2 separate regions of the Homo sapiens genome follow, and region 2 is linked to region 1. The links come from fine-mapping of genetic effects on gene expression. A gene starts in region 1. The other region holds a variant in brackets. All regions are shown on one strand. Distances are between the middles of the regions. Region 1 holds the start of ARMC2-AS1 (ARMC2 antisense RNA 1). Region 2 holds the start of OSTM1-AS1 (OSTM1 antisense RNA 1).

Region 1 (9,093 bases):
ATGATGTATTTGTTAATGGGAAGGAGACAGCTATTTTCTACTTATGGGGCTTCCTTCCTATAAAAGAATTGCCAGCAGCATAACTAACCACTCACGTGCCCAGTTGCCACGAGAGAGTAGGCATTTGGGGCCCAGGTTCTTCCTCTTCCCTTCTCTTCCCTTTCCTAGGAAGGAGCTGTCTATAGGCAACTCATGTTCTCCTCCAATTTTCCAGGGACAGCAGATCTGAAGATCTGAGAAGACTCAGAAACCTAAATATGTAATGCCTTGGGTTTTTTACTTGGAAATAAGAGGCTAAGGAGGCTGGGGATGGGGATAAAGTTATCACCGTGGTTGGAGGATGTGGCTGATAGCTGAGGCAGGCATGCTTTCTAATCCTGAGTCCTAGAATTAGATTTACCCACCCAGTCACAGACCATGTCTGTCCCTGGAGGAGCAGAACACCTTTGTTCTGATGGCAGCTCACTTCTAAAAGAGGAAGGGAAGAGAGGGACCAGGTAGGGGCTGGACTGGGAGGGTCTGATTCCTGTCCCAAGCTCACCAATCAGGAAGTGAGGGCGGTGGATGGCCAGGAGTGTTATGCTAAAAGACAGATCAAGGGTGGAAATGAGGCTCCTACTGTGTCTGAGGAGAGCCATTTGCTCTCAATTAGTGCTCTGTCTGCTCAGCCTCCTCTCTTCACTGTAGATCTATTAGTTGTGGCAGTAAGGAAATGTCACTAGCTTTAGCATATAATTGTGAATAGTGGTTTCATTGCTTGGTAGTTCTTAATGCACTATCTTTTTCAGACTCCTTTTTCTTGTTTTGCTGCATTGCCATTCTAGATTGTTTGTATGATATTCAAAATTTCTCCTGTATTGAATACATACATAGCCACAACTAGAAGAATCAGCTACCTACTCATTTTAGTGAAGTAACTGGCATAGAGGCAGTAAATGGAGAAACAACAATAAACAGAGCCAAATGTTAAATAGAGTCTCAAAGTAGGACATTGGAGGTTTAAGGAGGACAGAAGCATTTCCTGCTAAGTCGGACACCCATGGTAGGGATGTGCCAAGTAGGCCTGTGTAGCCAGGCACCGAGTGTTATCAAGGATTATTAATTAATATTACCTTCATATGCATATATCTTAATAAATTCCAAGAAAAGCTTAGACATGCATGTTACCAGTGATTTCACATGTCTAGCAGCATCTTGTCATTGGTTTCTTTTGTCTCAGCCAGAACTGTACAAATCATATATGAGACAATATGAAACTTCTTGGGTTACCACACAGGCTCTGGTTTTGGCATATATGTGGCCTCAATTGGGCACAAGTTCAAAGAAATGAATCTGCCTTTATTAATAGAGGGAGATGGCTTAGCTGAGGTTGGAAAATAGTGGCTTTAGTCATAAATCATTTCACACTGTTTGTGGTCTCTGGCGGCTGCGTTTATTCTTTTACATCATCAGTGGGAAGTCAACAATTTTGCAGTTGGCAGTTAAGTTGAGACAAAGCTCGAGGGATTTCAGTTGTGGATATTCCAGATGATTGCAAAATGCTTTTAGAGACCAGTGCCAAATAGAGTAGGGAGGCAATAGACCAAGAAACTGAGGCCAGGGCACTAGCCTACCTGGGAGCTGATAGACTTCTGAGCTTCAATGAGTCACAAGCTCCTCTGATCTGGGGCAGCTCTGATGGCAGGTTGCCTTCTAGAGCAGAATCTGGTGAGTTCCTTGAGGACAGAGTACTCTGATGGAGGAAGGGCACAGAGGGAAAAGAGAGGGCCGTCCACTCTGGACATGATCAGTGTGTGTGGAGGTTGCCCCACCTCGCACCCACCCACTGCAGTAGAGAACGCAGGAATGAGACCACAGCTGCTGGGCCTGTGTTGTGTCCTCAAGTCCAGTGATCCAAGTCCGGAGGGCCCCCCCACCCTTTTTTTTTTCTTGAGACAGAGTCTCACTGTGTCACTCAGGTTGGAGTGCGGTGGTGCGATCAAAGGCATGGCTCACTGCAGCCTCAGCCTCTGGGGTTCAGGCGATTCTCCTGCCTCAGCCATGAGAGTCGCTGGGATTACAGACCTGAGCCACTGGGCCCAGCCCCATATTTTAAGACAAATATTTCCTGTGTTTGCTAAGGTTTCTCAATTAATTAATAGTTGAAAACACAATTTGAAATTGATAATTAAGTACCTATAGTCAACTTGAAAAAAACAGAAGCTAAAGCTTTTGAGTTCTCATTTTACTGTATTAAAATGTAGTTGTGCATTTATAAATGATCTAATTTCTTCTTAGTACATTTTTTCCCTTTAAAATGGGTCTCCCAATACTGACTACACAATGAAAACTTTGAGGCTTACATAATTCAATGTGAGCTGGGTAGCTTTGCCAAGTCTCCAGGTGTTTTCCCTGACTGAGGGTGGTACCTGTTATGATCAAATAATTTGGGGAACATGGAAAGAAGCTTTCTCAGAAAAGTGAGCACCAGAAAGTTGTCAAGTGTAGCTCAGTCATTTTTCAGTAGTAGATTGGTAACCAGAAGCAAAATGGAATGTTTCTTCCTGGGTATTTACCAAAACCTTAGGTCCCCTTTTGTCCTAAACATCACCTAACAATTGCTAATAAGCAAGGAAACTTACATTTGTATTAGTCCTCTTTGTGGATTATCAGTGTCATTTTCTTCTCTTTTTTCTTCTTCCTATGGGCTGCCTTCAGGATTGCAAGTCCCACAGGATTGCAAGTTAAGAGATGGGGGAAAAGATAGGAATTAAAACTTGTGTTTTTCAGTGTGCTATTTCTTGGTGAAATGCTACTTAAGAGGTTGAGAATTTCTCTACTAAGTCCTTTAGAGACTAAACAAGACTTTTTTTAAGTAAGGGATTTGAGGTGGTTTGAAAGATTATATACAATAAAAAAGAAAAATGTGTGTTTAAGTTTGTGCATTTATAGATAATATAAATTAGAATAGAAAGTTAAGAAAGAAATGGATGCACACCTCCAAGCATGAAGCTTGGGCTTTGGTTAACTCCTGCTTTGGGGGAGGGCCCAGTGGGTGGGCTTTTCTTGAGGGTGGGAAATAAAGACCCTGCTGTAGAGCACAGAACTCATTGATAATTTTCACAGATTTATCTCTGTTCAACTGAGAGTTCTTGTTTTCTTTTTTTTAATTTTCACTTGTATATAATGAATTCAAAAGTAGGAGCAAAATTCAGTTAAATGGGTTGACTTGGAACTTGCCTTTACTGTGACCACATGATTTAGCTAGACTCTCCTCCCCACACCCTTTTTTTTTTTTTTTTCCTGCATTTTTTCCAGAAAAGGCCACTGGTCTGAGCATTCAGGGCCCCACCATCATCCCACAGTGAGATTGGTGGCTCTCAGAGGTTGGTGACAAGTCTCTCAAGATACAGGGCCTTCAGAGCTGCATCTGCGTGGTGGCCTTTTCCTGATCCTTCTCCCTCAGGGTTTTAGGCCCTGGTTCACCCAGGCCTCTGCTAAGCTCCCGCACTTTCTTGCCAGAGGTGTCTTAAAGGGAAAAACCTCTCTTTTGTCGCTCCTGTCCCTTCTTTCTTTCTTCCCCCTCCTCATTCCCCTCCTCCTTCCCCTTCTCATTCACTCTTCCAGCCCTCCAGTAGCTGAACATTTAAGAGCTTTTTATGAGCACATTTGTTGTCCTCTGAATAGAAAGAGGAATAAGAAGTGGTTTGTACCCTAGAGGAGCTCACCATGGGAGAGAAGATGCCTGAAGACAAGTGACAATGCTTCTGTGATGGGGGTTGTAGAGGCAGGAACAGGATGCTTTGGTAACACGGAAGAGGAAGGAGAGGAAGTGACTGATCAGCCTCGGAAAGGACTTCACAGAGAAGTTATCTTGAGCTGGGTTTTGAAAAATGAGCAGGAGGCCGGGCGCGGTGGATCATGTCTGTGATCCCAGCACTTTGGGAGGCCGAGGCGGGCGGATCACTTGAGGTCAGGAGTTCAAGACCAGCCTGGCCAACATGGCAAAACCCTGTCTCTACTAAAAATACAAAAATTAGCAGGGTGTGGTGGTGCTTGCCTGTAATCCCAGCTACTCGGGAGGCTGAGGCAGGAGAATCGCTTGAACCCAGGAGGCGGAGGTTGCAGTGAGCCGAGATCGAGACTCTGTCTCGAAAAAGAAAAAAGAAAAAAATGAGCAGGAGATGGCCCGGGGGAGAAGGGGTGGCAAAGTGTAATCGAGGGCACTCTGGGCGGAGGAAGCCGCCTATTCAAAGGCATGGCGTCATGAAGGGTTGAGGACCTCATGTGGTGCAGAGTCTGAAAGATGGCCAGGGTGGTGCCGAGGCAAAGGAGATGAGTTTGGAGGGATAAACCACACTTCAGAGACTGAGGAACCTTTAGGCTATGGGTGCTACTGGCTGGGCCGGAAGTCGCAGGAGGCCTTTGAGCAGGGAAGGCGGAGCTTTGAGATGCCCCCTCTGGCAGCAGTGAGCAGCTATGGGGGCAAACTGTGGAAGGAGCCCATCCAGGGGGCTGTAGAGTTTGGGTAAGAGATGAAGTGAGCTTAAACTGAACCAGTGACGCTGGTGATGGAGAGAAGGGGTGAACGTGTGACCAGTCAGGTGGGGAAAGGGGTGGGGCCCGGGAGTTTAGGAGCTTGGGAAGGAGCTGCTGTCAGAAATGAGATAGGCTAGAGAACAAATACACAGAGGCTGGTCCCCTTCCAGAGAGTTCATTTTTCTTTCATCCGTTATTTTTTATTCTGTGATGGATGGGGGTTATAGAGGCAGGAACAGGATGCTTTGTTAACACGGAAGAGGAAGCGACTGATCGGCCTCTGAAAGGTCTTAAACATAGACAAGTTAGCCTGAGCTGGGTAACTACAGAGTCCATTTTTCTTTCATCCATTATTTTTTACTCCTCTGCTTTCAAAAAAAATCTTAAAATCTGTCTACCTCAGAGATATTGTCTGCTTAGCCCATGGTGTTCTGATATCCCAGTCTTTCCTTTGTAGATGTCCACCCCTTCATTCATTCCATTAATAAATGCCTATTGAGCGCCCACCATGTACCAGGCACTGGACTTGGAGCTGGATGTACAATGGTGAAAAGGATGAACAAGGTTTATGCCTTCACTGAAGCGTCTAGTCTGGAGGAGTAGACAGATAGTAAACCATAATATTAAATAACCTAGCATTAAGTAGAGTTTATGGGGGCATATATGGTATGAGATGAAGCTTGACGGGTTGAGAAGGAACAGATCTGTTGAGCCTTGTAGACCATGGTCAGGGAACTGAATATTATCCTGGGAGCTATGGACAAAAAGCCAATATGGCTTGGAGTAACAGAAAGCAGAAAGGCAGGATTCTGGGATATCTCTGCTTGAGCAACTAGGTTGATGGTGTCATCTATTGAGCTATTGCTGTGTATTTTTCAAATGTATGGTATATGTTTCATGCATGTTATTTCTACCAGCACCACAAATGACAAATTTGGAAATACGTGAGGTATTGTATATTACTCAACTGTGTGTATCACGTGCAGTAAATGGGTAGGAATTTCAATCAAATGACATGTCACATATAAATGTGGGCTTTCTCTCCTGACTTGGGTTATTTATGAAAGTTATGTATGTGGGGCAGAAGAAACTTGAGCTGTCTAAACTTTTGCTAATGAGGTGAGAATAAGGCCTGAGAAGGAGAAAAAATTGAGATTGAAACAAGAAAATAAAAGCTCCTAAGGAAACTATGGTCCTTTCTGCTGGCAATGTCCCTTGCCAGAGCTTAGATGTGGGGAGCGTGAAGATGACTATGGATTGGGATGTCCCATCTTTGATGCCTTGGGGACCAGGGAAAAGGAACTGTTGGTGTGCAGTGACTGGAATGGGTATTTCATGGTTTCCCATGATGTCTGTCTGCATGGGAGTTACACAGGCATCTGTACTCTTCCGTCTCCATGGAAGAGAGTTTTGAGGCATCCTCTGAATTAATGTAAACCAGTAGTGCTCCGGTGCCTGGGCTGTCTCAGGAGAACAGGTGGAAACGGGGTCAGATGATGAGAATTTTCCATTTTATGACAGCAATGGAATTCCTAGAATGGTTCATTAGTCTTCACAAAAGATCTATTCCTGGCTGGGCGCAGTGGCTCACCCCTGTAATCCCAGCGCTTTGGGAGGCTGAGGTGCTTGGATCACTTGAGGCCAGGAGTTTGAGACCAGCCTGGCCAACATGGCGAAACCTTGTCTTTACTAAAAATACAAAAATTAGCCAGACATGGTGGCACGCACCTGTAATTCCAGCTACTTGGGAGGCTGAGGCACGACAATTGCTTGAATGGGGGAGGCAGAGGTTGCAGTGAGCTGAGATCCTGTCACTGAACTCCAGCCTGGATGACAAAGAGAGACTCTGTCTCCAAAAAAAAAAAGTCCATTCCTTAGCTTAGAAGAAGACTACATTGTGACATTGTTTAGATCTATGGAGTTAAGTGGAATACTCAAGTAGTTTGTTTCACTTCCAATGTTTGGGATACTGAAACTTTCAGGGAAGAATTTACAGAATCATTGTATAATTGAATTGATTACAAAAGACATGTACACATTTATTTGAAGCTTTTTTTTTTTTTTTTACATTTTCTGTGTTTTCAGGGTAGTCAGTTATATTTTAATGTATCTTTTTGTTGCTGTTGTTATAAGGAAAAACTAATCATGTCATCTTAAAAATTGTTTTTAAAAGTTTATATACTATGGCTGTAAGGATGCTTTATGTTTACATGATGCTTTACAGTATTAGATAAGTAATAAAAACAGTGCTACATGTTTCCATTTGCTACACACAACCCCCCGAGAGGTGAGCAGTGCTTGTCATCTGCTTTTCACAGATGAGGAAATGGGGAAGTGGAGGAAGGAGTGGCTGCCCCTGGGCACTTCACTAGGAAGAGATGATGGCAGCGATGCCATTCACACATCTTATCTCATAGAATCCTCACAACTGCTAGGGAAGTATCATCACCTCTACTTTATTGAATGAGAAAAATGAGCTCTGGGAGGTTAAATAACTAACCCAGGCTGATGGGTGGTGAGGCTGAACTGGCTCTTAACCAGTAGCTTTCCTGTAGTGTCCCACAAGGAAGGAGCACACTGCATATTAAAATTATTAGATAACAACATTAGTTTTATGATTTACTAAACTCTTCTCTTCTTGACTCTTTGACGAAGGTAAAGTAGATAGCTTTCCTGAATTTTTTTTTTAATAAAATAAGACAAATTTGTGAGATCTTAATACTTGTCTCTTGGGAGAGAATGAGACTAAAGATCTTAAATATTCCTTGGCCACATCATTCATTATCTGATGCTATTTATAAAAGCATAGAACAATCAGACAAGAATACCTATAAAATTAAAAAAAAAAAAGAAAGAAAAACATAGAACAAGAAGTTTCTAATCTGCAGAACTGATGTGGCTATCACAGGGCCAGCTGAAGATCTTAGGAGTGTTAGCAAACCTAGATGATGGTTTGTTTAACCCTGGGTTTGGGGTATACCAATTGCTTACTAAGATTAATATTTCATTCTTTACCTTTCAACCAAATTAGGCTTTCTTTGTTTTCATTTGTTGCTACTTGTGCCTAGGCTCACATTCCCTGGTGGGAGATGCATAGCGGGAGCTTTGCTTAGCTACTGATATAAGGAAATTTATGAAATGAATTGTACTATGCTGTTTCGTGTGGTTATATTTTTTCAGTTCAAAAAAAATGGCACAAGCATGCTTTTATCCTAGGTGACTGCTACATTGAGAAACTTGGTTGATTCATCATTAGTAAGAAGTAAGTTCCTAAACATCAGTGCCCTTCCCCAGCTCTGCACGGCAATGGAACAGTACAAGGGTGACAAGGACGTCTGTACCAATATTGCCAGAATATTCAGGTAGGTAGACTAAGACGTGAAGTAGCCTTACAAAAATGCTAATGCTTAGATTTGGGGTTATCTTTAATATTTGCTTGTGTGACTGGCAAGGAATCCTTTTCCTTCTTTTTACTTCGCCTACCAGAAAGGGTAAATCTAGTGGCCCAAGTTAAAAATGAACAATTCAAACAAATGAACCCATTGTCTATATGATTCTATTGTGATTCTAAACTCATTGGTTGTTAAGTCATTTTAGTTCTTTGGTGAGTTGTGAGCTACGTGTGTGTGTTTAATCTTCCTCTCAGCTTATTTGAGATAAAAAACTGTATACAAAACACAGCAAACCTTCCAGTTTGCTAGGAAATAAACAAGAGTTTTAACTCAAAAAAGGGGATCAATGCTTAGAAAGTCTGATGTGACTTTGTAATAGAAGGTTATTCTATTTCAGCTATTTGAACTTTGGCTCAAGCTTTCACTAGTCAAGTCTACACTTACTTTATTTCTTCCAGAAATAATGATCATTTGAATCCAGGTTGCCTCCAAGCAAGATGTTGTTAAATTTCAGAACTGTCTTTGAATTATGCATTTCTGTTTCCTCCCGCGCTGCTCTTTGTCAGTATTTTTACATAATGATTCTTCTCGGGAGCCTGAGGCTTTTCTTGAACTATAATGTTGTAGTTGTAAAGAAATGCAAAATTTCCTGAAGACTGAATTGGTACTTGACCCCAGGACCCCTGTATAAGGATGTGAGTCCAAATCTGATTTTTTTTTAAATGAATGTCAACTTGTATTATAGATTAAATGGTACACAGGTTTGTTACGTGGGTAAATTGTATGACGTGGAGGCTTGGGGTCTCGACAATCATGTTACCCAGGCAGTAAGCATAGTACCCAACAGGTGGTTCTTCAGCCCCAGCCCCCTCCTTCCCTCCAGATCTGATCTTTTTATACTGCACTTCCCTGAGCTTTGTTCTGGATACCTAATTACTACCTATCTAATGCATTGTAGAATCATAAGGAATTTATTTTTGTTTATAGTGTCATGTAGGGGTCCAACTTCATATTTTTCCCATGTGGATAGTTGATTGTTCCAGCACCTTTTACTGACTATGCCATCCTTTCTCACTGATTTTGTCAATCAGACAGAAAGTTCCATATAATTTCAGGTTTGTTTCTGGGCATTCTGTTTGGTTTATCCTCAGACCTGTACCACACTGTACTTACTATTACAGAT
Region 2 (9,093 bases), 800 kb before region 1:
TCACGCAGACTCTGATTCCCGCCGAGAACCAGCCTAAAGAACCACTCATGGCAAGACGGGGGCCCACCGGCCTGCTGGCTCCTCACCAAACTCTACTCCGCATTGACTGTGGGCTCTTGTTCTAGAGGCACCCGCATCCTCAGGATGAAATGTGAGTACAAGAGCAGAGACTGCCGGTGCTGGTGTTTGCAGGTATGTGTGTGTGTGTGTGTGTGCACGTGCGTGTCCACAGCAATTAGCCTCTGATACACATAGTGGGAGAAAAGAATCCCCAAAGAGGAAATAAACAAGTCTTTTTGTTTAAGTTTCTACATCCGAATCAAATTCTTCTTTAAAAACTATCTCTACATTTCCACTCAAGGACAGAAAGGAGAGAGACACAGGCTTCTTACCCTTGTAGCGCCTTCATCTGAAGAGATTTTTAAGCTCAAAGAGCAGATGTAGAAGCTAATGTTTGTAAAACCTGATGAACTGTCAGCGAGCCACCACCCTGCCAGGGAGAGCTCCGGGAGCACAAGGGGGGTGCCTGCCTGGGGTGGGGATTGTCTGGCAAGCCTGTCCTCCCTGTGGAGCTGGTTTCCTGTCCCCGGGCTGAGCAGATGCCCAGCCAGAGGCCTGAGGTCTCAGAGGCTATCATGGGAATGAGTGCGTCCTTAGAAACCTTTCACTCCAACCTGATGTAGGTAGTGCTAAATCCTTTCCTGAGCCCCACACAACAAAAGCTAGGGATTCGAGCTCATGCTTCACGGATCCCTTAGCCACTAGGAATGCATGTTGCTTCAGCTCAGTGGCAGCTAGTGCAATCCTAAGTGATTTCAGTCAAGGGTTCTAGACTTTTTGTTCATGTTTTCTCTCACTCAATTGCTCCCAGAGACTATCTCTTTCTCAGCAAATGGGGTCACTCATTTTCATAGTAAACTTTGGTGATTGGGGTGCAGAGAGGTGGAGGGGGGAGTTGATAAGTAGATGGGGGAGTACAAACAAGGTCTGGAGGAATTTCTCAGGGGTGGGGGGAAAACAGTAGCTGTAGAAGAAAGGACTGAGAGCCTCAGAGATCTCTGGCCAATCCCTGGAGAAGTGGATCCCAACATGGCCTGCAGACTAAACCGTGGGCCCTGTGAGAGCTAAGCCACACTCGTGTGTTGCCACCGGATGAAAGGTGGAGGAGGCAGAAACCTAAACAAGTGAATTCAATTACATCTGAAAAAGATTAGGCTAAATTAGGATTCATTCCTTGGGCCAGTTCCAGGAAATATTTGTGAAAAGTTGGTTGAAAGAATACTACCATCTAAACCCTAATTTTGCTATTACGTAAAAGCCCCGATTCCTTTGCAGTAAAACATTAGAAAATGTTTTCCTCATTTTGTTTTTGCTACTGGTGTGTGACCTCTTAATTTAATTTTGGTTTTTGCTCATATAAATCAATGGCCGTGGAAACTTTTTCCTGTGGTGCAGCAAAGACAGGGGAAAAGTAGAACATCAGTAATTATATTTTAGGCACTTAATTTATTTAATGAGCAGTTATCAAGCACCCTTAATGGTTCCAGCCATAAACTATAGGATATCATCCTTTACGTTAGAGGATATCAGCCTGCTTCAGAGAACCTTCATGTGTGTCTCCGAGATGCAGAAAGAAGGAGCGTGTTCTTAGGTGAGACATTAGTGGACTGAGGTTAGAATTCATCAGCCTGATGCCCTGATAATTTCCTGCTGCCTTCTGCCTCTGCTGTGCCCGCAGTTGGAGCCCAATCAGTGATGCCACTGCCCAATTTGCCCAAATAGCCAGCCAGTGGGAATAAAGACCCAAACATCTCATATTTTTAAAATTAATTTTTTACCTTTCTGTCACCTGCCTGAACTGGTAAAGAAAATGTTTCTCAGGTTTCTTCAATTCCTCTTCTCAAGGAGAGCTGTTAACCCTTTGAGGGAACTCACATATCTATGGGATATGTTATACATTTGGAATGTTTTACACTTGGGAACAAAAACTAAATTAGGCAGATAGCTCAGATTTAGAATACAGTACATGCATTTTTTGGTCATGTGCCATTTCATGGTGGATGGAATTCATGGCTGCAGCTTACAGTTATATAGGTTCCACACTGCACTGTGCTGGAGGGAAACATTCACACAGACTATGGGTGGACAGAATTGTGTCTTCTGCTCATGGGGGTAGGAGGTGAGGACGGAGGGGTCACTCCCATCCTTTATTTCAGCAACTTAAGAAAACTGTGATAGATGTTGAAAGTAGTGTACTTATTTGGGATGAAATAACAACTTTTTTTTTTTTTTGAGATGGAGTTTCATTCTTGTTGCCCAGGTTGGACTGCAATGGTACCATATTGGCTCACTACAACCTCTTCCTCCTGGGTTCAACTCAGCCTCCCAAGTAGCTGGGATTGCAGGCACCTGCCATCACGCCTGGCTAATTTTTTGTATTTTTGTTAGGGGCAGGGTTTCACTATGTTGGCCAGGCTGGTCTCAAACTCCTAACCTCAAGTGACCCACCTGCCTTGGCCTCCCAAAGTGCTGGGATTACAGACATGAGCTACCGCACCCTGCCTGAAATAACAATTTTAAAGTTCTAGACTCAGGTAACTTGAGTTCAAACTGCCTCTGCCATATTGCTTAACCTCTCCATTTCTTATCTATAAAATGACAGATAGATAACATTAAATAATAAGAGTAACCACTCATAGGTTTATGAGGATTAAATGAGTTGATATATGTAAAGATCTTAGAATAGTGTCTGGCACATAGTAATTGCTCAGTTAATATTAGCTATTGTTATCATTATTCTTTGATGTGTTGGAAAAGCATTTCCCTCCTATTGTGGGAAGAAATAGGAAAACAAAGTTCCCACTGTTCTGTTTGACTATAGGCCCTGCATGGCTAGGCAGGAAGAGGAAAGGCACTCAAGTAGGACAGAACTGGGTTTATTTCTGTTGTAACCACCTATTGTGATCTTGGCCACATCCTCTACAAGCTGCAATTTCTTCAAATGCAGATTGAGAATAGTAATAGTATCTACCTTGCAAAGTTGTTATGAGAATTAACGACAAAATATGGAAAGTGCCCAACACAGTGCCTGACCCTTCATAGGCTCTCAAAAATATTTGTTACTGTCAGATTGAAGTTAAACCAAGACATGGCATTTGGATACTGTTAGAAAAAAAAAAAAAAAAAAAGCAGGATCACTGAGAATATTCTAGCCTCAGTGACAAAAGAAGAAAAAACAAGCTTTCCAACTCCCAGCCAGGAACAGTGATCTGAAAATCTTGATGTGGGGTTTGTGTTCAGTCCCCAGCCCTTTTTTGGACTGCCAGACCCTCGTGTTTGTCCTGCTTTCCCCACTTCTTTCTAGTCCTGGTCAGAAGTGATGTTGGAAGGGACTGAGAAAACCCATGAGGGAGAGGTGAAGCATCTCCCCAGTGCCTTTTTAATGTATGAGGGTGCTTCAATTACCAGATTGTCAGCTCCATGAGGGCAGGGACCATGTTTGTTCCTGTTCAACAACATACTCCTTGGTAAATATTTGTTGAATAAGTTAAAAAAGTAGAATACATTATTAATGACTGTATTGTATAGTAGCAGCTTGACTGTATTGTATAG[T/C]AGCAGCTCAGTTAAACCTGAACTCAATGAACTGAACGCTCAATTTACTTTTTTTTTTTCTACATCTCACTTTGTGAAAGAAAGTGCTAACAGGACAAGCTCATATGAGGAATTTAGTATCAAGAAAACTAATCACAGTTTTTCAAAGTATGATCTGGGATTTGTACAGATTCAGCCCAATTTCCTAAACCTTGTGCATGGAGCTCATTAGCACTGCAGAAATCATTCAACAAACATTTATAGAGCAAGTCCTATGTACCAGTGGTCCCCAACCTTTTTGGCAACCTTTTTGGCATGGACCAATTTCATAGAAGACAATTTTTCCACAGACAGGTGTGGAGGGATGGTTTTGGGATGAAACTGTTCCACCTCAGATCACCAGACATTAGATTCTCATAAGGAGCGGGCAACCTAGATCCCTCGCCTATGCAGTTCACAATAGGCTTTGCACTTTTATGAGAATCGAATGCTGCCGCTGATATGACAGGAGGCGGAGCTCAGGTGGTAATGCTCACTCACCTTCTGCTCACCTCCTGCTGTGTGGCCCAGTTCCTAACAGGCCATGGACCAGTACTTGTCCATGGCCTGGGGGTTGGGGACCCCTGGTATATGCCAAAGACTAAAATAACAACATAACTTTCAATTTACTAATTACTTTCACATATAAATTTAAAGTAATTATCCCTGACGAAAAGGACAAGCATGACCACCTTCATTTTCCCTCCCCATAGTAGGAAAGCAGGACTCAAAAAGGTTCAGTGACATGCCTGAGGCTCCTCTGATGTCACCGCTGGGCTGAGGCATGCTCTGACCCATAAACCCAGTTCTGTTTTAATTTCTTCCTGTGATCCCTTCCATGGGAACTGCTGTTTAAACTCATGACTCACACATCACCAGGAGAACACAAATATTGTCACTATGTTTACAAAGAGAGAAAAGTAAATATTTTAGAAACACTTTTGGGTACTGTTGTTTTTCTTTTCTTTTTTTAAGAAAAAAGCATTTTCTGGTTAACTTGAAGGTTTCATCAGAAAATAAAATGAATCAGATTACTTCATTCCCCAGTGTACCCATTAATCCAAATTTGAATCTAGTTATTTAGGATTTAAAATAGAAAAAAAAAAAGGTATATTTGGCTGTTTCTAACAATCTGAATAGGAATTTTCAGCATGAATTTCCTCAGTAGATGCTTGGTAACTTAAACCCCTTGCCAGGTCCATCCCTGACTGTTGTGGCTGAGAGAGCTATTGTGCAGAGGGAGTGGGCACATCTGCCCAGGTGGTAAGCTAACACAAGAAGCTACAGGGCCACAGAGAGGAAAGAGAGAGAGGGAGAGAGAGAGAAATACCTACAATTTCCCAAAACGCTCTGCTATATTTCCCGTTTCCACTCAGTAACCACCATCCCTTATCCCAATACATAAGGAAGTTAGAAGAGGTCTCTTACCCTTTGATATGGTTTGGCAGTGTCCCCACCCAAATCTCATCTTGAATTGTAACTCCCACAATTCCCATGTGCTATGGGAGGAACCTGGTGGGAGGTGATTGAATCACAGGGGCGGGTCTTTCCCGTGCTGTTCTCATGATAGTGAGTGGGTCTCAAGAGATCTGATGGTTTAAAAATGGGAGTTTCTCTGCAAAAGCTCTTTTTTCTCTTGTATGTTGCCACGTGAGACATGCCTTTCACCTTCTGCCATGAGAGTAAGGCTTCCCCAGCCACATGGAACTGTAAATCCATTAACCCTCTTTCTTTTGTAAATAGCCCAGTCTTAGGTATGTCTTTATCAGCAGCAGGAAAATGGACTAATACTCCCTTACAATACAATTTGCTCTGATTAGGATAGTTAGGATAAAGGTCACCCTCAGGATGACTTGGATGGGAAAGATGGAGGGTTCGTTTGATCAGAAAGCCTGGGGGAAATGGCAATGCAGGCCAGGTTTGACTTGCATCCTTCAATCTCCCATCGCCCTCCCTAACCTGCTTCCTAGCCACTTCTCCCGTGGTCTCCCTTACCCATGCTGTCCTTCGCTCCTGAAAGTTTGTAACCACTACACACTTCCTGGGCCTGTCCCTTTTGGAAGTGCCTCAGGCTTCAAAATTACTGTCACAACCAGCTTTTTAGTTGAGTATTAAGATTATCTGACCAAGTTAACTCATTCTAACATGAATGATCACTAGAGAAGACGCAATTCAAAAGAAGGTCTTCGTAACCTAAAGGAAGCTCTAATTTGTGGATTTCATGGGGGAAATGTTACAGGGGCCCATGGCCAGGGTGGGGGTGAGTTACCTGGGTCAGGTGCTTACCTCTGGTCAATAAACTGAGGGCACCAGGAGCATGTGGCCCACAGGGCAGCTGGACCAGTGGGCCAGGGTGGGTTATTTTAAAAGGGAATATGGGTTGGGGCAGTGATTGGTATCACCTTTGTATGATTCTTATATTAGTCTGCTCAGGCTGCCATAATAAGATACCATAGACTAGGTGAGTTAAACAACAGAAATTCATTTTCTCACAGTTCTGGAGTCTGAGAATTACAAAATCAAAGTGCTGCTTGATTTGGTTTCTGGTGAGGGCCCTCTTCCTGGCTTGCAAGTGGCTGCCTTCTCTGTGTCTTCACATGGCAGAGACAGAAAGAGCTCAAGTGTCTCTTCCTCTTCTTTTAAGGGCACAAGTCCTATTGAATTACAGCCCCACCCTTATGAGCTAATTTAACCTTTATCACCTTCTTACAGACCCTGTCTCCAAATACAGGCACATGGGGGTTTAGGGCTTTAACAAGTGAGTTTTGAGGGAACACACATATCCAGTCCATAACATTCTGCCTCCTGGTCCCCCCAAATTCATATCCTTCTCACATGCAAATACATGCATTCTACCCCAATAGCCCCCAAAGTTTTAACTAATTCCAGCATCAACTCAAAGTTTCAGGTCCAAAATCTCATCTAAATATCACCTAAATCAGATATGGGTGAGACTCAATGTATGATTCATCCTGAAGCAAAATTCCTCTTCAGCTAGCAACCCATAAAACCAGAAAAATCATATGCTTCCAAACTACAATGGTGGGACAGGCATAGGGTTGACATTCCCATTCTAAAAGGGAGAAAGAGCAAAAAAGGAAAGGGTGATAGGTCTCAAGAAAGTCCAAAACCTGGAAAGGCAACTTCCATTAGATGGTAAGGCTTGAGAATAATTCTTCAGCTCAGAGGGTGCCCCACCTCTCCAGCTCTTGAGAAAGGCCCTGCACATATGGCTGTCTTCAAGGGCTCTGCCTTCTGAAACTGAGGAGAAAATAGTCTTGCCTCTGGGCTTGTGGTGGGAGTGACAGCCTTGGTGATCTCTGAACTGGCTTCAGGTCACTTTTCTCTTTCTTAAAGGATAGCTCATGTTCACAGCCTTCCTTCATTCTGGCCAGTTTTCTCCCAGCTAGTGAAGTTTTGCTGGTATAATCCTACCTCCATTCCTGGCTTCTGCTGAGATGGCTGATTAGATCGTAGTTCACATCCACATTAACCTCATTATTAAATAGTCACTCAGCCACACCCTTAGTGTTCTCTTCAGAACATGATTCCTCATTTTTTTGCAATATGAATAGGCTAAGAATTTTCCACATCTTCAAGTTCTGATGTCTTTTCGTTTAACAATTCCTTCTTCAATTTATCGCTGCCCTCTTGCATTTTACTATAAGCAGTAAGGCAGACCCACGCCTCACTTTCAATACCTTGCTTGGAAATCTTCTCTGCTAAATATCCAATTTTATTGCTCACAAGTTCTACCTTCCACAAAACACTAGAACGCAGCCCAGCAAAGTTCGTTTTCCCTTTACAACAAAGAGCACCTTTTCTCTAGTTTCCAATAATTGTTCATCATTTCTGTCTGAGACCTTACCAGATTGGCGAGGTCTACGTTTCTACCAACATTCTGCTCATTGCTATTTATGTGTATTCTCTAAGAAAATGAAGGCTTTCTCTCCAACTCTCTTCTCTTTCCGAGTCTTCACCAGAACTGTCTTTAAAGTCCATATTTCGGCCAGCCGTGGTGGCTCACGCCTGTAATCCCAGCACTTTGGAAGGCCAAGGCAGGCTGATCACTTGAGACCAGGAGTTCGAAACCAGCCTGGGCAACATGGCGAAACCCCATCTCTACCAAAAATACAAAATATAGCTGGGCGGGTGGTGCGCACCTATAGTCCCAGCTACTTGGGAGGCTGAGGCAAGAGAATTGCTTGAACCTGGGAGGCGGAGGGTGCAGTGAGCCGAGATCGTGCCATTGCACTCCAGCCTGGGCAACAGAGCAAGACTCTGTCTCAAAAAAAAATAAATAAATAAAGTCCATATTTCTATCAACAACCCCTCCTCAGCAATCTAGACATTTTCCAGCATGCACCTCAAAACTTCTTTAGCCTTGGTGGGGCACAGTGGCTCATACCAGTAATCCCAGCACTTTGGGAGGCTGAGGTGGTGGATCAGTTGAGGGCAGGAGTTGGAGAACAGCCTAGCCAACATGGTGAAACCCCGTCTCTACTAAAAATACAAAAATTAGCCAGGCACGATGGTGTGTGCCTGTAGTCCCAGCTACTCAGGAGGCTGAGATGGGAGGACGGCTTGAACCTGGGAGGCAGAGGTTGCAGTGAGCCGAGATCCTCTAGCCTGGGTGATGGAGAGAGACCCTCTCTAAAAAATAAAAAGAAATTAACTAGCATAGTTCTCATCTCATAAATCTCAACTACATAAATCACCTTAGATTTAGATATATAAGTGCACATTGGAGTCCCCTGAGGAAGCTTTAATAAACATACCATACTCTAGTTTCCCCCACCAGAAATTCTTATGTAATCAGTCTGAGGTGCAGCTCAGGTCTTGGGAGTTTTTTAAAGCCCATCAGGTAATTCTAATATGCTGTTTAGGGGCAGACATGGTACATCATCAAGCAAAGTTAGGGGGACAGAGGAGCTGGATGGGGCCACTTTATGTAGCTCAGCCCCAGAGCTACACCAATTGACTACTAACAGTCTCTTAGTTCAATTGGTTGAGGGCCTTTATACTCTTCTAGCTGTACCTGCAAAGGAATATAGAGCAATTTAGCAACATAGGTGTGCTAAGTACACATGCAATAAAACTGAAATCAAAGGCACAGAGCTTTCGGGGGAAATAGAGATTCTTTGGATATGGGAATGGTGGGGTTTTGTTTAAACTATGGTGTTGGTGACAAATAGAGCTCTGGCTTATGTTTCATAATGTATGTAGTTGTTTCCATGCACTTATCATCATTTAGCTGATTTTTTTTGTTTGTTTGTTTTTTGTTTTTGAGATGGAGTTTCGCTCTCGTTGCCCAGGCTGGAGTGCAATGGCTCTATCTTGGCTTACTGAAACCTCCGCCTCCCAGGTTCAAGTGATTCTCCTGCTCAGCCTCCCAAATAACTGGGATTACAGGCTAATTTTTGTGTTTCTAGTAGAGACGGGGTTTCACCATGTTGGCCAGGC

Evidence for each region. PIP is the estimated chance that this variant, and not a neighbour inherited with it, causes the effect.
Region 2: its variant is fine-mapped to the expression of ARMC2-AS1 in blood mononuclear cells (TOPMed, PIP 0.96).

The regions. Positions count from the first base shown.
Region 1 is chr6:108,920,354-108,929,446 of GRCh38, forward strand. It overlaps ARMC2-AS1 (ARMC2 antisense RNA 1), which reads right to left and starts at 3,750. Exons shown (of 3, transcript NR_104137.1): 1 at 3,708-3,750; 2 at 2,622-2,691. It overlaps ARMC2 (armadillo repeat containing 2), which reads left to right. Exons shown (of 18, transcript NM_032131.6): 11 at 7,735-7,880. RefSeq lists an enhancer at 182-1,092.
Region 2 is chr6:108,123,584-108,132,676 of GRCh38, forward strand. OSTM1-AS1 (OSTM1 antisense RNA 1) reads left to right here and starts at 50. Exons shown (of 2, transcript NR_145458.1): 1 at 50-192. All of the region lies in intron 1 of LOC124901368 (a long non-coding RNA gene), which reads right to left. The variant T/C (reference allele first, on the strand shown) is at 3,613.